Linked DNA regions of Homo sapiens. The protein of the gene in region 6 purifies or fractionates together with the protein of the main gene of each other region. This does not show direct contact. Each region holds a gene or a part of one and is shown on either strand. Other genes may lie near its edges. The genes, in order: STX17, VIPR1, USP8, OCIAD1, CCKBR and EPG5.

Region 1 (3,500 bases), on a different chromosome or scaffold from region 6:
TTTTTCTGACCCATAGAAGAAAAAGTTCCAGCACTAATAATATACAACTTGTCTAGATTTCTGACACCCTATCATTGTTTCTATTTAGGACACCCCCAACACTTTCCACTCTTGCCTGAAACAGTCTATGCTAGCAGATAAATCACAGGCTTAAAACTCTACCATCAGCCGTCATATGTTGATGAGTTGAAAGGTAGAGGAAAAATAGTCAGTGTCTCCCTTCCTTCAGCCCCAAAATAATTCCAGCAAGAGGGAGGAGCCTGCCAGGATTATTGCCATTTCTATACCCCAAGTGTAATCGTAAAGCCTCAGGGAAATACTTTCTAATGTTCCTTCCTTTAAAAAGGGTTGGATATTGTACTTCTATGACTTTTTAAAAATTAAAGCAAAATTTTAAAATAATTTAAATATTTTTTCATAAAAATCATTTGGAATAACTGAAGAAGCAACCACAGGCAAAAAACCAATCCTGAGATCACTAATTATTTGAACTACAAAGTTCCCCATCATTGCAATCACCAGCATTTGATGAGGCCCATCCCACCCTGGGGAGTAGCCCACATCTATAAGTATTTATTCATGCCATCAGAAAGCATGCTAAGATATGGGGCTGGGGTGTGGGAATAAGGCAGAGGGCAGACAGCCCCTATCCTGGGATCAATAATCACCCCTCGATTGTGCACGTCTGCCTTTCTCTTGTCCGTATTTTGCTTGGTTTGCAACTTCAAACTTTGCCCATATCTTCAAATTCTGCTTCTTGAGTAAGGAGGACTCACTGACCCCCACAAAGGTTACAGTTAGGCAGCAAACTATTGTCACAGAGTTGTCAATTACCATCAGCAGAATGCCAAACCAGACTCCATACAGAGCTGAATTGGGTCACTACCTGTCCACTATGTCCTTGGCTCTTTTTGTGGGACCAAAAGATACATATACAACCCTGCCCCAGCCTGTGAAATCAAGCTCTAAACATTAATGGTGGTGCAGGAGCCTCCTAACCTCTATCTATCAATCTCCCCTGAGGTTTTGCTTCTGATTTGCTCATGTTTATTTTCATCTGCTTAGGCCTCCCACATTTGACAATCTTCAAATTCCATACCTGCCATTTTATAGTTTGGCACCCCATATATGTTCTCAGCATTCCTTTAACAATGAGCTAAACCATATTTAAGTGTTTAGCTCATTACACTGCAGTGTTTCTCAAGCTAGAGTAATATACTGACCTCCTTTTACAGAAAAAGAAAATTCTCAAATGACTCTAAGAATATGTCTACGGATTTCATTTTAAAGAACATTGAATTAAGTCCCCCTATTGGCCTGAACATAACAAATCTTGACGAACAGCTATAGGAGTACCTAAGTTTCTGTATAAACTGTGATTTATTATACTTGTCAAGCAGAATGCAATTTGGGAATATAAATTCAAAACCAATGAACTGTTTTGTTCTTGAATGCCTGTTGGGGACACTTGTAGGCCTAGCATCCTCTATGTCAAGCAATAATAATACATTCAAAAATTAACCCCCAAATCCATTTATATCATTAACAGTGGTCTTCCATAGAGAGTTCTGATAGTAGTTGTAAAGTTTAAGGTTCTTGGAAAGCTACGAGTTTATTTAAGAGGGTAATACCAAAACTCCAGGTACGTCCATTTATTCCTCTCTAAATTCCAGCCAGCCTTCAAGGCCAAGTTCTAATCTTAGATCTTGACCAATCCTGTTCACATTGAGCTATTCTGGTTCTAAACTCCTATGATATATTCTATATACTCCTTAATCATATGCAATCATATACACAAAAAGGCCCAGAAACAAACTTATAAATACTATGATATATAGGCAAAATAAGTGATTATATTGGCTTCGAGTAAGCAATAAGCAGAGTAGATAAGTAGGATGTTGCTAACAGAGGATTCAGCAGTTGGAAAGGGACTGAAGGAATTCCAGTACTAAAATGCCTAAGGATAATAGTGGTGGAAAAAGTAGAATTTTTGCAAGGAGCCAAACAAGGAATGAAAATAAAGGAAGGACAAAAGTGGGAATGCAGTTGGGGTCAGTGGAAGGGAACAGAATGGGAAGTACTTAATAATACACATTACCTCATTTAGTCCTCCCATCAGTGTTATAAAGCTCATTGTTGTCAAATAACATCCTGAAGGTCACATAGGTAATAAATGAAGGAATCTGATCTAATCCATTGCAACCAGTTTTTATGTTTCCAGAGTAAAACTGGATTACAAAAACGACAGGGAATAAGGCAAAAGGCAGAAGTCAAAACAGACTAGCAGCAAGGGTGAGTTGTTACTGAACTACTGGCCCAGGGTTCTTTAAATTCTCCTTGACTAGAAATAGGGCTAGTTACAAAGTTATAGGGAGAGAAGAGGGCACTTGAACAACAAAGGCTGAAGAAAAATAGAGCAGGGTACCTAGTAGATATTAATTTATTAACATTTATTGTACTATACCTTGATCTGTCAATGGCTTTGTAAGTTCTTTTTATAGTGGTAAAATAAATATAACATAAATTTACCATTTTAACCATTTTGAAGTGTACAATTTAGTGGCAATAAGTAACTTCACAATATTGTGCAACCACTATTACTATCTTGTAAGTTTTTTAAATGCTTTTTTCTATTCCTCATTAAGCTTAGCACAGTGCTACGCAGATAGAAAGTGTTCCTTAAATACATGGTTAATTTGTCTAGACACTATCATGTCCATGTGATGATAATGAGAGGATGTGGTCACTCTGGTTATGTTCCTAGGTCATTCTGTGCCTAAATAGAGCTTCTGTGAATCCTTGGCCATGTGGTCATGAGAACTTAGTCACCCTGGGAATAATAATCAGGGGTTCTCCTTTGAGCTTTTGCTTATTAGCATTCTGTCTCATGTACTTAAACAGATTATTACAAACAGGACATTTGTATAGAGCTGTGGCTACAGCCAGAGTTTTCCTACACAAATCTCCCTTAGATTAGAGGTTATGAGCTGCTTACATAATATAATCAAACATGTAACTATCTTATGGTCACAGACCTTTAATATTTCTTTTATGTGCCTATCCCAGTAGAAAAGAAATGTGTTTGTACTGAGTAAGAACTTTGTACATGTGTAGTTTGTTTTTTAAAATCAGCTTTATTGAGGTATAATTTACATATATTAAAACACATTTTATGTGTACAGACCAATGACTTTTGGCAAGTGTATATATTTGTGTAACCATACATGTATAGGTTTTACAAACTGCACTGGATTCAGAGATTATTAGTTTACAATAGTTGAATAAATGTTGATTCTGAAACAACAGATATTTTGGGATTCTTGTTCTATTATTTCCTTCTGTTTGCGAGTATATTAATATTGTACAGATACCTAATCCAGAAACTTCAAATATTTTGCTTCTTCTAACTTAGAGGCATCCAGAAGCAATTCAAACAATTTACTGCATTCAATTTTAGGTAACACATTTCAAGAAAATATTCAGAATATGGAACATAAGCA
Region 2 (2,213 bases), on a different chromosome or scaffold from region 6:
ATTGTCTCTGCTCACTCAACTTGTGTTGGTGACATTTGTTTTGTCCACTACCTACCTCCTCTTAGCTGAGCCCTGGGTAATTGCAACATGGTCATCCTAGACCCTTGTTTGCAGCAATGTCTGCGGCCTGTGAAACACTCACACTCAACCATTTCTGGGACCCTGGGCAGCTCTGCCAGCTGTTTTGTATTGATCTGAGATTAGAATGGTCTTTTCTTGGCTGGATTTAAGGAGTGGGGGGACACAATGGGGACCTGGTCTTCATCACACTCAGAGGAGAGAGGATACCACTCAAAAAGATGGGAGCTGAAGGCCCTCAGAACTGTGAATGCCTCATATGAAAATATGGATTTCTGTCAAAAGCCAAAAGAGTTGAGGCATCTGGTTTCAGTAATGTATTAGATCACCCATCCTTTGGGTGGAGGAAGATGGCTCCAAGTTGGAAGCTGGTCCCATTTTAGGCCATATGAGAATATCAACCACCAGGGGAACCAAGCCAATCCAAGCCAACATTTATTGTTGCACAAGCCTGTTGCAGTCCTGAGGGGATCTTCTGGCAGAGGTGTGGGTAGGAAGCTGAGTGGCCACTGGGGTGAAGGGCAGACAGAGGAGGCTGTGACCAGCAGGCTCCTATCCAGATGATACATGAGATGGAGGCCTCCTCAGCCACACTCCAGGGAGGGTGGGGTGGCAAGGGGGATTCAGGGATAATGGCATTAATAATACAAGTGGTAAACAAATAACCAAGAGGATCTGGCTGGTTACGATACACAAAAGTTAGCAGTAAGAGTCCGTGCTTTCACATTCCTATCAGACAGATCTGAGTTCAAATCCTGTATGTGTAGCAGGGTGAGGTATCTGCTTTCTGTCAGAGCCCATGGGTGCACATCTCTGAGCCTAGTTACAACAGTTGGCACATAGGTGGGTGGACAAGGAGGGCAGCTCTTGATTCCTGTTGCTTCCACAGCACAGAGAGATAAGTATGGCTGGTGTGACAGATCCCACTTGACAGATGAAGCCACTGAGACTTGGAGAGCAGGTAGGCTTAGTCCGAGACCTAGCATTCGCTGGTGGCTGCCTTCTCATTTCCCAGAGGCTTCAGAGTCCCTCAGTCCTTGGGTTGCACCGTCCTCCCACCAGACTGACCCAGGGGCCAGTCCACTTCGGTGGGGAACCACTAAGATAGGTGTGCTCTCCAAACAAAAACTCCAGAATAACCCACTTTAAAAAGCTGATAACTAAGCGTAAAGAGAGAATAGGGTAGTGAGCTGCATCTTCAGTCAAATGCCTGAGTGGTAATGCTTAACCCAAAGGAACTTGACAGCAATGGTGAAATTTCAGGCACTACCGTGGTGTTGGTGCTGGTGACCTTCCCGGGCAGAACCTTTCTGCCCTCAGGTCACACCAGTGTTGTTTGAGGATCCACCGGTTGCTTTCCTCCAATTGGGCAGAAGAGCCAGCAGGGGGCAGAGTCAGGATGAAAGTATGTAGACTTTTTGCCCTTGATTGGCGTAGGGGGCCTTTGGAGGAGGAGTCTAATGACTGAGTTCCACCTGCAATCCTCCAGGAGAGGAGCTCCCATCTCTCTCACTTGCTAGAAACGCTCCAGGCAGGCTCTAGGGCTGCGTTCTCTAGGAGTGTCCGGACCAGAGACCAGGGGGCCGGGGGCAGCCTCCGAGCCCAGGGCCGGGGCTGGCCGCGCCCGGGCAGGCCTCTGTCCCCGGCGTCTGCCGGGGTGAGTGGGAAGGGGCGGGAGGGGCCGCCTTGGGCCCCTGGGATCCTGGTGGTCAGACCAGGGAGACTTCGGCTTGGAAGCTGGAGGAGCGGCGGGCACCTGGGCTGACGCGGGTCAGCATGGAAACCTGCGTGCTGCACGTGGCGCCGTTGCTGCCTCCCGACGGGTGCCGGTATTTGGGGTTCCAGCCCAGGACGCCCTGCAGGTGCCAGCGCCGCCACTTCCGCCTCAGCTCCGCCTGCACCTAGGAGAGGGGAAGGTGGTCAGGCCCACTGCTGTGGAGCCTCTTCCACTGCTGATTGGGCTGCCCTGGACTTAGGGTTCTGAACTAGCCAGTCTTATTCTCTTTAGGAAATCAAAATGGAGGGACCCCTATGCTGCCTCGGGCGGTGCAAACTTGGGACTGGGTTGAGGCCAGGTTCAGAAGGAGGCCTTGGAATGGCAGGAGGTAAGAGGCAGAGAGGATCCTAGAATACAG
Region 3 (3,500 bases), on a different chromosome or scaffold from region 6:
TGCCTATAATCCCAGCTACTCAGGAGGCTGAGGTGGGAGGATTGCTTGAACCCAGGAAGTCGAGGCTGCAGTGAGCTGTGATCACGCCACTGCACTCCAGCCTGGGTGAGAGAGTGAGACCGTTTTCAAAAAAAAAAGAAAAGAAAAAGAAAACGAGGTTAGTGTAGAAAAAATAATTTTTTTCCTGTTCACTTCTCTTTCTGCCTCTTAAAAAAAATCCTTTGTCTTTTTTTTTGCATGTATTTGAGAATAAAGTAGGAAGAACCACTATGGGGATGAGGTTAACAATAAGAGGTGGAACAGAAACAAAAATAAATGTTGTTTCCATTTACATTTTGGTGGCTTGATCTATTTTTCCCTAATTTTAAAAGTATAGTTATGATCATGTTACTCTCAAGTTTAAAATTCTTTAATGGTTCCTTGTGCCTACAGGACAAAATTCAAATTTGATCCAAGTCTCTCTTGATGACTCTTGTCCATCCTTCTAATCTTATCTACTATCATAACTTCCTCTCTCCAACAGAGACTAGCGCCCACATATGCCAAAACTGTTCACTGGCCCCAGAGCATGCCCTATGCCTTTGGTCATAGAATTTTCTACTTGTTTCTTCTATCCTCCAATCCTACTCTTAAAGCCCAGATAAAATACTGTCTCCTCCATGAAGACGTCCTTGATCTTCTCAGCTAGAATATTCTCCTTGCTCTGTGCTCCAGTGCCTTGTAGAGCAATTATGATATTCTGCCTTATGCTGTGGCTGATTTTATACAGATCTCTCCTTCCAAACATCAGAAGAACCCATCTCTTGTATATACAAACTTTCATGCTGTCTTATTTTTATTTTTATTTTTTTTTGAGACAGAGTCTCACTCTCACCCAGGCTGGAGTGCAGTGGCCTGATCTCGGCTCACTACAACTCTGCTTCCTGGGTTCATGTGATTCTCCTGCCTCAGCCTCCTGAGTAGCTGGGACTGCAGGCACGCACCACCACGCCTGGCTAATTTTGGTATTTTCAGTAGAGATGGGGTTTCACCATGTTGACCAGGCTGGTCTGGAACTCCTGACCTCAGGTGACCCACCTGCCTCCGCCTCCTAAAGTGTTGGGATTACAGGCACGAGCCATGGCACCCAGCCCTCATGCTGTTTTTTATATAGAAGATCTTCAAAATATGTCTGAAAATTGTACGTATCTCATAAAGTTATGTTGGGACACAAAAGGATTAGCGTTTAAATAGATTAAGTTGAAAGGAAATGCAATAACATAGAGAAGCTCTTTTTAGACTTTCCTAAATTCACCCTTTAAGAAAAGTTGTTTAATCACATCTATTTAGTCTGCAATTTATTCTGCAATACTAAAAGACCTTAAAAAAATGAAGAAATGAACCACTTCAGTTTATAACAAAAAATTACCAGATTTTCTATTCAATACCTGCTCCACAAATCAAACGTCATCCACTTTAAATGTGAAATACTGTTTTAAATATATCTGGGGAAAAAATTAAAAATGAATGCTAAAAAATGTTATTGGGAAATGCATGGAGGGGGAACATTAGTTAACCTTTCTTTAAATAAAGCCAAATGAAGGATATAAAAACTAAAATTTTTTTATTTGTAATGTCTTGGTTATTTAAAAACTTTTACATGATTATTGTTAAACATGCCTGTTATTTGCGTGTCAAATTCTAAGGAAATGAAACTAAAGCACTGTTTTAAAACCAAAATACTGACATCACATACCTATCATATGTAAGCCAAGCTATTTATGAAAATAATATGGGTCAAATTATAATACAAAAAATCCCAAAAGGGCTATTCTAATTCACTGTGATAATGCAATCTTTCATTGGCATTGTTTGTAGCAAATGGATCGCCAACTGGCTTGGAAACCCCTTAATTATCTACTCTAATATAGGCGTGGCGGTAATGCTGAATTATGATGAAAAATTTTTAAACAAAAAATTTATCAAAACATACAGACTGTTCTCATCGATACTTTTTTCTAAGATGTTAAAGGTTATATATTAAACTTCGTTTCTATACTATGTATTTAATTCTTTTTTTTTTTTTTGAGACAGAGTCTTGCTGTCACCCAGGCTGGGGTGCAGTGGTGCAATCTCGACTCACTGCAACCTCCGCTTCCTGGGTTCAGACAATTCTCATGCCTCAGCCTCCCAAACAGCTGGATTTATAGGCACCCACCACCATGCCCAGCTAATTTTTGTATTATTAGTAGAGAGGGGGGTTTCACCATGTTGGCCAGGTTGGTCTCAAACTCCTGACCTCAGGTGATCTGCCCCTCTCAGCCTCCCAAAGTGCTGGGATTACAGGCGTGAGGCACTGTGCCCAGCTATACTATATATTTAATATTAAAACAAAAGCGAGAATAATGTTAAAATCAAGAACATACCTGTGGAACATTCTTTATACTAGGCACTGGCTGAATTATGGGTGAAACATCAGATTTAGAAGCAGCAACTGGTTCAACTGGAGTTGATATATTCAGTGGTCCCATTCTCTCATTTTGACCACTTATCAATTCTATATTTTCATCTACTTCTATAGATGCAGGTGGCGTCTGGGCAGCAGGTTTAGAAGGAATTGATTCTTCCAATGAGGGATAAGTAAAATCCACTAAAATTCCAAAAATAAAAATGTTTTTTAGAATAGCAAACCCCATACACAGTACTTACATTTCTCATGCGTGTTAATGCAGTAATTAAATGTAAACTAAGTGAAAAAACAATTACAACAGTCTTAAAGAAAATGTGAACTTCCAGGCTTATATTTTTATGCCTGAAAACAAACTGCTCTCTAATAGGACAAATACACACACAACCAAGAATGTTACCGGGAAAACAATTTTAAACCATATTTTACCAAAGCAATTTTAAACAAAAATTTTCACATACATACATGAGATAGACACCTCTTCATTCTGGCGTCGTGGGGGTGGAGTGACCTTAGCATTTGTTGTATACTGGGGATAACAAAGGAGCCAGTTTTCATAGCCTCCCTCTAAAACCAAAGGCTCATTGCGCAGGACAGTTTTACTTTCCCACTATAAATAAGGAAATCATATTTTAAATAGGGCAGCAATCTTTCAACAGCTAAAAACACAACAAATCTAAATTTTAAAGTTGTTCCCTTAAGGACAAAATTTATCTTCTAAATAATGACAAAATGAGAACTGAATTCAAAATTCAACATTAAATGAAATGGTTATATAGGTGAGGTTTTAAAAACCATACAAATAATCAATGATCTTAGAAGAAAAATTAGAAAATAAATTACTAAATATAAAACAAAAATGACCCATAACCTCACCACCCCAATACCACTTTACATTCTGGAGTTTACTCTTATAGAGAGTTTTCAATAAAACCTTTATGATGTTGCTTTTCTATGAACATCTTTCATCACTATAGAGCTATATCATCATTTGCAATGCTAGGTAATATTCGACTACTGGTTGACTGATTGACAAGGTCTCACTCTATCACCC
Region 4 (3,500 bases), on a different chromosome or scaffold from region 6:
CAGGCACAGTGGCTCATGCTTGTAATCCCAGAACTTTGTGAGGCCGAGGTGGGCAGATCACAAGGTCAGGAGCTCGAGACCAGCCTGGCCAACATGGTGAAACTCCTTCTCTACCAAAAATACAAAAATTAGCTGAGCATGGTGGCAGGCGCCTATAAGCCCAGCTACTTGGGAAGCTGAGGCAGGAGAATTGCTTGAACCCAGGAGGCAGGGGTTGCAGTGAGCCAAGACTGTGCCATTGCATTCCAGCCTGGGCAACAAGAGTGAAACCCAGTCACAAAAAAAAGAACACCGAAAAAAGAAAAAAAAACAAAAAAAAAAAAACGATGGCTTACGTCTGTAATCCCAGCACTTTGGGAGGCCGAGGCAGGTGGATCACAAGGTCAGGAGATGGAGACCATCCTGGTTAACACGGTGAAACCCCATCTCTAGTAAAAATACAAAAAAAAATAGCCAGGTATGGTGGCAGGCGCCTGTAATCCCAGCTACTCGGGAGGCTGAGGCAGGAGAATGGTATGAACCCAGGAGGCGGAGCTTGCAGTGAGCCAAGATTGCACCACCGTACTCCAGCCTGGGGGATAGAGCGAGACTCCGTCTCAAAAAAAAAGAAAGAAATTATTCCCATTCTAATGAGCCATGAAAATTTTATAGAAGCCCTTACTTTATGATGACTATGCATCTATAACAATTATTCTCAACTCGTTCCAGTTATTCTGCTCCCAGTTGAGAATAACTGTTTTAGATGCATAGTCATCATAAATTTAAAATGGACATCATCACCTAATTCTTATTCAGGTTCTTTCTAGCTTGAAATACCTGCAAGTCTCTGAATATTGGTGGATAAAATGACAAAGATTCTATCAGAGCTCCTCTATCTTCCTAACTGCTCTTGGTCTTTGTTGATTCTTTCACTATCACTTGTTCCCTTATCCATGGGTACTATCCAAACTTTATCCTTTATTCTATCAATCCTAAGTATTAATCACAGGGCAGAAACTATTATCAGTTTTATGCTTTTATCTCTACACTTAATTTATTGGCGAATTCACCAACACAACTCCACAATAAACTAATTTTTCATGTATGCTTTTGTTTCTATCTGTAGTTGCTTAGAAATCTTCGACAATCGAATGTTGCACCATGAACTCAAAACGTCTGAACTAAACTCATCTTCAAACAAGAACTCCTTCTAAATGAACCTTTTATTCAGAGGTATCATTGAGTCTCCTAAGCTGGTTATCTTAAAGCTATTACCTCCCTCTTACCATTCCTTCATTCCCCCTTAGTCGAACTTTTTAAAAAATCCTTTTATTTGTCCTTTAAAAAGTCTTTCGTTGCCAGCTCATCTTTTCCAGTCCAAATGACACACTAATCAACTATATCTCATCGTTGACTACATATATATGCCTAAGTTACTGCCAAAAGCTCAAAACAGATTTTACCAAGTACAACTTCTCACCCTTCTACCCATCTTGCACACTGTTAACTAACCTTCCTTAAAAAAAACCTTACATATCACCCCCCTCTGCTCAAGAACCTAAACGATATAATGGATCAAACCTTTAACTCATTACTATGTTTTACGTTCTATCCTCAATGAAAGACCTCTGTTCCAATCAATTCAGGCTCACCGCTCCAGCAGAGATGAAGTTATTGCAAACTCTGCCTTTGTTCACTACTCCTTTCTTCCAAATGCTACTCCACCTTTCCTCTTCACTTATCTACTTATTAACTATTAATTCTTTTGTTGTTGTTGTTGGGGGATTAGGGACAGGGTCTCACTATGTTGCCAAGGCTGGTCTCAAACTCCTGGTCTCAGGCGATCCTCCTGCCTCAACCACCCAATGTGCTGGGGCCAGGTTCAGTGGCTCATGCTTGAAATTCCACCATTTGGGGAGGCCAAGGCAGGCAGATCGCTTGAACTCAGGGGTTCAAGATTAGCCTGGGCAACATGGCAAAACCTAGTATCTACAAAAATAAAAAACAAAACAAAACCAAGGTGCTGGGATTACAGGTGTGAGCCACCATACCTGGCCTACAGTACTATTATAAAGTTGTTAAAGTATTGTTTGCTTAACAAATAAAGGTCTTTTTCCAACTCAGGTATTCCACCTTATGTTACAGAAAAACACAACTGTAAAATTGTAAGAGGCTTCAGTTTTTACCAAATTGAAATTTGGTAAAATTTTGAGAAAATTTTGAGTTTTAAAATCTCAAAAGTTATTCAAATTTTTCAATTTCAGTAAGTCAATTCTAATTAATTTATCTCTTTAAAAAGTCTTCTGCAGTTACACACTTAATCTCTAAGTGTTTCATGTATTAGCTTTGTCTCACCACATATAAAACTACTTCAGGGCCAGGCGCAGTGGCTCACACCTGTAATCCCAGCACTTTCGGAGGCCAAGGCAGGTGAATCAACTGAGGTCAGGAGTTCGAGATCAGCCTGGCCAACATAGTGAAACCCAGTCTCTACTGAAAATACAAAAATTAGCCGGGCATGGTGGCGCACGCCTGTAGTCCCAGATACTCAGGACACTGTGGCAGGAGAATCACTTGAACCCAGGAGAAGGATGTTGACGTGAGCAGAGATCACACCACTGCACTCCAGCCTGGGGAAGAGAGTGAGACTCCGTCTCAAAAACAAAAACAAACAAACAAAAAAGAAAATTAATTCAGGACAAAGTCTGTCTTTCATAAAACTTATCTTCCCAACAGGTACCTTGCACATTTTAAGCATACATATCAGGCTGACTGATGAAAACATACATCCTCCTTAATGGCTTAAGTTGCCCTTTTTTTCTTTTCTTTGAGACAGGGTCTGGCTCTGTCACCCAGGCTGGAATGCAGTGATGTGATCATAGCTCACTGCAGCAGCCTCTATGTACCCAGCTCAAGGGATCCTCCTACCTCAGCCTCAGCCTCCCAAATGGTTGCGATTACAGCTACGTATCACCACACCCAGCTAATTTCTTTCATTTTTGGTAGAGACAAGGCCCCTCTATGTTGCCCACGCTGGTCTTGAACTTCTGGGCTCAAGCAATCCTCCTGCCTCAGCCTCCCAAAGTGCTGCAATTATAGCCATGAGGCACCGTGCCAAGTTGCCTTTTTTAAAAAAAAATTTGCCAGGCATGGTGGCTCACGCCTATAATCCCAGCACTTTGGGAGGCCAAGGCAGATCACCTAAGGTCAGGAGTTCAAGACCAGCCTGGCCAACATGGTGAAATCCCGCTTCTACTAGAAATAGAAAAATTTGCTGGGCATGGTTGCACATGCCTGTAATCCCAGCTACTCAGGAGGCTGAGGCAGGAGAATCGCTTGAACCCAGGAGGCAGAAGTTGCAGTGAGCTGAGATCACACCATTGTACTCCAGCCTGGGCAACAAGAGCGAAGCTCCATCTCAAAAAAACAAAAACAAAAACAAAAAAAAATTCATCCTCCTTTTTACCTGAAAGGACTACAGTTTCCAAGTAAAGCAATACCAATTCTTTGTTAAATAGTGA
Region 5 (2,790 bases), on a different chromosome or scaffold from region 6:
CTAAAAGTGCTTCCATTTGGCAGAATCTTGGCCAGGTTTTGACACTGGGGAAGAGAGTACAGCAAAAAATCCCTACTCTTTAATTAACTGTATTCATTCTGTATACCTGTCATGGTCTGATCTCTGGTGTTTCAAACACACATTGAATAAACTTAGTCTTATTATACAGTGCTTCCTCTTTTATCTTTTCATCAAAATTTAATAAGCATCCATTAATATAGTACCTTAACAGTGGCACCACTTTGGGATAATGTGATCAGGAATCATGATATGTCATGGATATGCCATTTTCCATCCCCATTCACAGTTATTGCAACATTGGAATGTAGGTAGAGGATGAAAACTCAGAAAGAATATGCACAGCCACGCTGAACCTCAGAGGCTGGGCTTTCTGGCAAGGGGTTGTGCACAGCAGTGTGCAACAGTGGGAGAGACCCGACAGAAGGATACTGCAAAATCCTATGCCTCCTCACCTGCCCCAGAAGAATCCAGAAAGGAAGTTCAGGAGGAAGCCAAACAATTTATTATTTCTTGAACAGTTTGGGTAAGGAAGGAGAGGGCAGGGCCACGGTCCTTAACTGGAAAGGGATGAAGAACCTTTTCAGTGCAGAACAGCCTGTTGGTCAGAGGTATGAGATTAGGCCTGATGGTATTTTCAGTGCTGATTGGGAAGGGTCACTGTGAGGTCAAACTAGGAGCATCCCAGAATCAGTCCTGTGCCAGGCTCCATAGTCTCTAAAACAATCAGTGCCATTAATCTATGTGTGTGAGAGGCAGGTCAGCCCTTGTCAGAGTTCCCACTGTGTAGAAATAGTTCACTGCTAGGGACGCTGTGTCTCTCCAAGGTCAGTGTCATGTTTCTATGGGCCAGGCTCAGTCCCATATCAGAGGCATGCCTCCTTTCCCATGTACTGCTCCATTCTTATTCCTCTTGTGTCAGGTAAGCTACCTTTTCCTGTGCGTTGGGGTTAGTCCATGCTTTGGGTGTTGGTTTCCTGTGTCAGTTGTGGTTTGTGTTTCGTATGTCTGGAAGGGTCAGTGCATGTCATTTGCCCTGCCTCAACCCCCACGGCCCCTCTACTCCTCAGCCAGGGCCCAGTGTGCTGATGGTGGTGTAGCTAAGCCTGGACAGCGAAGCAATGGAGGGAGTGGGAGGGTCCTCATCGGGAAGAGCCCTGGGGCGAGCTCGTGGAGGCCGGGGGCAGCAGCGAGCGCAAGTTTCCAGGCAGGCCTGGCGAAAGCGACGGTGCATGAAGCAGTAGACCAGGGGGTTGACACAGGCCGAGGCGTAGCTCAGCAAGTGAATGAAGGAGATAGGAGCACCCGAGAGTGCTCGGTGTGCACCCGGGCCATCAAAGGCGCGCCACGTGTTGGCACTATAAACTGGCAACCAACACAGAAAAAAAAGCACAACGATCACCAGCAACATTCGCACCACGCGCTTCTTAGCCAGCAGCTTGGCCTGGGTGGGCCGGGAGCCGGATCCCGGCCCAGGAGCCGTCAGCGCCGTCAGCTCCAGGGCAGGCCGGGAACGTGGAAGTTGCACGTAGCAGCCATCGCTGTCTTCGCCAACCGCGCCAGTCTCAGGCCGGCAACGCCCGTTCTGGTGAACAGCCCCTGAGCACAAAGGGTGGGCGGTCAGAGAAAAAGGCGAGTCCCCCCAGTCTCCAGCCCAGTCCCCACCTGACCTCCGCTCCCAGCTCAACTCCATTTCCAGCTTCCTTCTCACCCTCACCTTCATTTCAGTCCCACCCACTCCAGCAGGCCCCGTCGCCCTCCAAAGCTCCGCCTCGCCCAGATTTTGCTCACGTGGTCCAGCCCCACCTGGCAGCCCGCCTTGGTTTCGGACCCTGCTTTGGCTGTCGCTGTCACTGTCGCCGTCAAAGCGAAGCCCTAAGTAGAGCTCGCGAGAGATAAGCCCGTAGGCCACGGCCATAACCACACCCGGGATGAAGAACAAGAGCAGAAGCAGCAGTACGGACCTGAAGGCAACACAGACAGATCACTCGGGTTTCTGTCCAGCTGTAATCACAGATGGAGAAAAAGCCAAGGACTAGTGTTTCTAGGGCTGTGGCCAGGTACCTGAAGTAGGAGTAGGATTTGGGGGTGCCGCTGGGAAGGGAGAGAGAACTGGGGAGGGGCCCCAAACTGGAACTCCAGGGTGGTGGATGCAGAATAGGAGTTGGCGTGGTAATTCTCCGGGAAGCTGGAGGAAGATTCTGGGCAATGGTCGTAAGCATCTAATAGGGGTGAGAAAGGAATTCCTAGGATAGTTTATGGGCAAGCTCACCAGGTCTGGCGGACCCGCGCACTGGGCCAGCGATGCACGCACTGCAGCACACGAGGCCCCACTGGTTGCACGACAGTGTACACGGGGTAGGGCACCATGAGTAGTCCGGACAGCAGCCACGTGGCTACAATCACGCGAGCCGCGTGGGAGCGCGTCTGCCACACTCGTGCCTGCAGTGGTCGGCAGATGGCGCTGTACCGCTCCAGTGCGATGGCCACGAGGCTTAGCGTGGACACACTCACAGACACCCCTAAACAAGGGAAGAGAAAGGAAGGAGTCACCTAGGAAACTTGCACTACACAAGCATCAGTGGGACTTCCTCACACCCCTCCCTGCCAACCGGGGAAGACCCCTACATCCACAAGAGCTTTAGGCGGGGAGAGTGGCAAGTGGGGGTGGGGTGGTTGTCTCACCCACCCATGAGGTAGGAAACCGCCTTGCAGATGACGGTGCCAAAGATGAATGTGCCCATGAGATTGGGCAGGAGGGTGAAGGGCATG
Region 6 (3,500 bases):
CTCCATTGTGGGAGAGACCCAGTGGGAGGTAACTGAATCATGGGGGCCGGTCTTTCCCATGCTATTCTCATGATAGTGAATAAGTCTCACGAGATCTGATGGGTTTATCAGGGGTTTCTGCTCTTGCTTCTTCCTCATTCTCTCTTGCCACCACCATGTACGAAGTGCCTTTTGCCCTCCACCATGATTCTGAGACCTCCTCAGCCATATGGAACTGTAAGTCAAACTAAACCTCCTTTTCTTCCCAGTCTCAGGTATGTCTTTATCAGCAGCATGAAAAAGGACTAATACATTTGGGGCTGAAACATAAGTCTGAACACAATATTCATTTGTAATTCTGTACCTGAGACAAAGTTTCTATTAAGTACTTAGGTGTGGAATTTTCCACTTGTGGCATCGTATCAGCACTCAAAAAGTTTGGAATTTTGGATCATTTCAGATTTCTGAATTAGGAATCCTCAACCTGTACCTATATTCTGAATATACATCTAGTCTTCAATTTCGCATACTTCCTGCATTTCCATTTCTTTCAAAGCTGAAGTCCAGAGTTCATTTAGCATAATCTTTACTAGAGAGAAACATACTTTGTGCTCAATAATGCACTAGATAAATAACTTACTACCATGTATCATGATCAAAGAAAAGTCATTAATAAACTCATCAAATAAATTAGCTGAAAAAGTTGAAGACCAAATGTAATGATATAACAGATAATTCCTAAATTATGAAAGAAATAAAACAAAGACTACTGTGTCTATCTCTGTCCCCTTACCAATTTCTGCAGCCAGAGAAGAATATCATCATGAAACTGAGTATCTTCATTAACTCTCCTGGTGAACATGAATAAGACACTAATGCATTCCTTTAGTTGACACAGATCAGAGGGAATGCTTTCTGTCTGCTTAGACGCTGTAAATGAAAGATATTAAATGAGTCTCTCATAAATGGTGTTTTTGGGGGAATTTTTAGTGTCTTCACTTAAACCAATAACAACAAAAACCTTTAAAATATTTAGTGCAGATAAAAGGAGAAAAGTTACATCAAAATACTTAAATTTTTATAAACAGACAAGTCAAAAATGTGTTTAACTTTGAAGTATTTCAAAATAATGGAAAAATCAACCTCATCATAATTTTTTTTTTTTTTTTGACACAGCCTCCACTCTGTCACCCAGGCTGGAATGCAGTGGCGCAATCTTGACTCACTGCAACCTCCGCTTCCTGCGTTCATGCCATTCTCCTGCCTCAGCCTCTTGAGTAGCTGGGATTACTGGTGCCTGCCACTACACCCAGCTAGTTTTTGTATTTTTAGTAGAGAAGGAGTTTCACCATATTGGCCAGGCTGATCTTGAACTCCTGACCTCAAGTGATCCACCCACCTCAGCTTCCCAAATTGCTGGGATTACAGGTGTGAGCCACCACACCCGGCCATAATCCACTATTTTTTATTTGAAAATCAGTACATCTCTGACCTACCCCCAGTTAATTGATTAGTTAAGAAAATGGGGGAGGGGGAATTTTACTTTAAAGTACCCTAATACATCCCCCAGAAATAAAAATTGCATAATTCAACAAGCATACTTAATATTCATGTCATAAAGACTAATTTCTTAAAATCCAAAATAAGATGAAAAATTCAGAACATTATTAATCCTCTGTTGGAAAATTAAACAAAACAGCCCTACAAACAAAGCAGCCCAAACAAACCACAAGAGATAAAGGGTGAAGAAGTATTCCGATGATTACTTTTATAATCAAAAACTATATTTGGACTCAACTTGGTAACAAGCACATTAACTAGGACAGCAAAGGACATTAATGATAGATAGTGAGCTTTTTGGCATCCTAGAGAAGCAGAGAAAGACAGCCACGGAGAAAGGAGACCTGGCAATGCTCCCAAGAAATGTCATTAAGGCAGATCTCAATCCTACAGTGGGGGAGGCCTGGTAAAACTGCAAGCACAAATGGTACCTTGTAAGACCAATTACTATACAGTCAATTCAACCAGGCTATACCCCTCAATTTTTTTTTACTTCAAAACACAAGAAAGAGAGCTTCATTACTTACATACCTCGGCCTTGCTGGTGAATTGCTGAAGATCTCAGAACAGCTGAACTACTGAGCAATGCATAGATGTAAGACTCCACTTGCAATCTTGAGAGCACAGAAGTATAAGAATGAAGGGCCAGGGTCTGGTGGAGGTGCTCAGATTTGGCATCGAATAGCTTCTTTAGCTCCACCAGTGCATTTTCATTCATTTCTACTCTTTGGTAGCGATGATAGCTGAAAACTTTCACTTGATCTGCACAGATACCCTACCAGAGGACAAAAAGGTACAATATGAAACCAGTTACTCTTTCCATTTGAAGTAAGCAGGCAGCAAGTATAAGGTACACAGGCTTCAGTACCATCTTCAAAGAGCTTATAATCATGGTGAGGAGACATATTACTGTGTAGAGAACATTACCAGCAAATATATGATCAGGTGCAAAGGAACAGAAGGCCAATCACAAATACATCGCAAATTCAGAGAAGGGAAGAGTAACTCTAGTAGTCAGCAGTGGGCCAGGCGCGGTGGCTGATGCTTGTAATCCCACCACTTTGGGAGGCCGAGGCAGGTGGATCACGAAGTCAGGAGTTTGAGACCAGCCTGGCCAACACAGTGAAATGCTGTCTCTAACTAAAAATATAAAAATTAGCTGGGCATGGTGGTGGGCGCCTATAATCCCAGCTACTCGGGAGGCTGAAGCAGGAGAATTGCCTGAACCCGGGAGGTAGAGGTTGCAGTGGGCCAAGATTACGCCACTGCACTCCAGCCTGGGCGACAGAGCTAGACTCCATCTAAAAAAAAAGTAGTAGTCAGCAGTGAAAGCTGCAAGAAAATAATAGAACTTGTCCCTAAGACTTTCATGATTGATGATCTTACCTTCTATTTTATGAATATGAAGCCAATGTGATATCTCCAAAACTTCAAGGTATCTCAAAACATCTCTGGATCTACCCTCATCATTCTTCATAGTTCTACTCAAGAGAATACACACTCCACCAGCTGTGTTCTTGATTCTATCCTCTCTTCTTCAATACAGTATTTCCAAATATTTCCCTCCTTACTATGTACAGAGATATACAGGTCTGCCAATGAATGAGGATTAGGGATAGGGGAATGACATGTTTCTCCCCAATATCCCCTCCAGCTTCCCTTCACTGCCAAACTTGTCAAGAGTAACCTCTTCTTCCTTGCCATCTCTCCTAAGCCACTATGAAATGGCTTATGATCACTTTGGCCTCCATAGGGTTGCATCTAATGGTCTTCTCCATCCCCTCTCAAACTTGAGAGGACGTCTCCCCCTTCCTTTGGGGGCTCTGTGTTACACATCAGGGACTCTCCATTGCTTATAGTTAAGAAGGTGAGTTTCACTCTCATTTTGTCCACTGGCATCATCCTGGAGCTAGGAATCAGTTACTACCTTCAGATTCCTCATCCCCACTCAATGGGGAAGA

The links.
Region 1: the proteins of EPG5 (region 6) and STX17 purify together in Homo sapiens (affinity purification with western blotting, with the first as the bait; one study listed by BioGRID). This does not show direct contact.
Region 2: the proteins of EPG5 (region 6) and VIPR1 purify together in Homo sapiens (co-immunoprecipitation; one large-scale study listed by IntAct). This does not show direct contact.
Region 3: the proteins of EPG5 (region 6) and USP8 purify together in Homo sapiens (affinity purification with western blotting; one study listed by BioGRID). This does not show direct contact.
Region 4: the proteins of EPG5 (region 6) and OCIAD1 purify together in Homo sapiens (co-immunoprecipitation; one large-scale study listed by IntAct). This does not show direct contact.
Region 5: the proteins of EPG5 (region 6) and CCKBR purify together in Homo sapiens (co-immunoprecipitation; one large-scale study listed by IntAct). This does not show direct contact.

The regions. Positions count from the first base shown.
Region 1 is NC_000009.12:99,962,154-99,965,653, reverse strand, and holds part of STX17 (syntaxin-17), read right to left. Parts: intron 1-3,500. UniProt on the Homo sapiens protein: SNAREs, soluble N-ethylmaleimide-sensitive factor-attachment protein receptors, are essential proteins for fusion of cellular membranes.
Region 2 is NC_000003.12:42,535,856-42,538,068, reverse strand, and holds the end of VIPR1 (vasoactive intestinal polypeptide receptor 1 isoform 1 precursor), read right to left. Parts: intron 1,980-2,213; coding exon 1,788-1,979; 3' UTR 501-1,787; downstream 1-500. UniProt on the Homo sapiens protein: G protein-coupled receptor activated by the neuropeptides vasoactive intestinal peptide (VIP) and pituitary adenylate cyclase-activating polypeptide (ADCYAP1/PACAP).
Region 3 is NC_000015.10:50,476,405-50,479,904, reverse strand, and holds part of USP8 (ubiquitin carboxyl-terminal hydrolase 8), read right to left. Parts: intron 3,057-3,500; coding exon 2,912-3,056; intron 2,630-2,911; coding exon 2,406-2,629; intron 1-2,405. UniProt on the Homo sapiens protein: Hydrolase that can remove conjugated ubiquitin from proteins and therefore plays an important regulatory role at the level of protein turnover by preventing degradation. Converts both 'Lys-48' an 'Lys-63'-linked ubiquitin chains.
Region 4 is NC_000004.12:48,834,088-48,837,587, reverse strand, and holds part of OCIAD1 (OCIA domain-containing protein 1), read right to left. Parts: intron 1-3,500. UniProt on the Homo sapiens protein: Maintains stem cell potency. Increases STAT3 phosphorylation and controls ERK phosphorylation. May act as a scaffold, increasing STAT3 recruitment onto endosomes. Involved in integrin-mediated cancer cell adhesion and colony formation in ovarian cancer.
Region 5 is NC_000011.10:6,269,838-6,272,627, reverse strand, and holds the end of CCKBR (gastrin/cholecystokinin type B receptor), read right to left. Parts: coding exon 2,708-2,790; intron 2,541-2,707; coding exon 2,291-2,540; intron 1,983-2,290; coding exon 1,825-1,982; coding exon of another isoform or gene 1,618-1,824; coding exon 1,085-1,617; 3' UTR 501-1,084; downstream 1-500. UniProt on the Homo sapiens protein: Receptor for gastrin and cholecystokinin. The CCK-B receptors occur throughout the central nervous system where they modulate anxiety, analgesia, arousal, and neuroleptic activity.
Region 6 is NC_000018.10:45,950,330-45,953,829, forward strand, and holds part of EPG5 (ectopic P granules protein 5 homolog), read right to left. Parts: exon of another isoform or gene 2,926-3,500; intron 2,315-2,925; coding exon 2,071-2,314; intron 910-2,070; coding exon 773-909; intron 1-772. UniProt on the Homo sapiens protein: Involved in autophagy. May play a role in a late step of autophagy, such as clearance of autophagosomal cargo.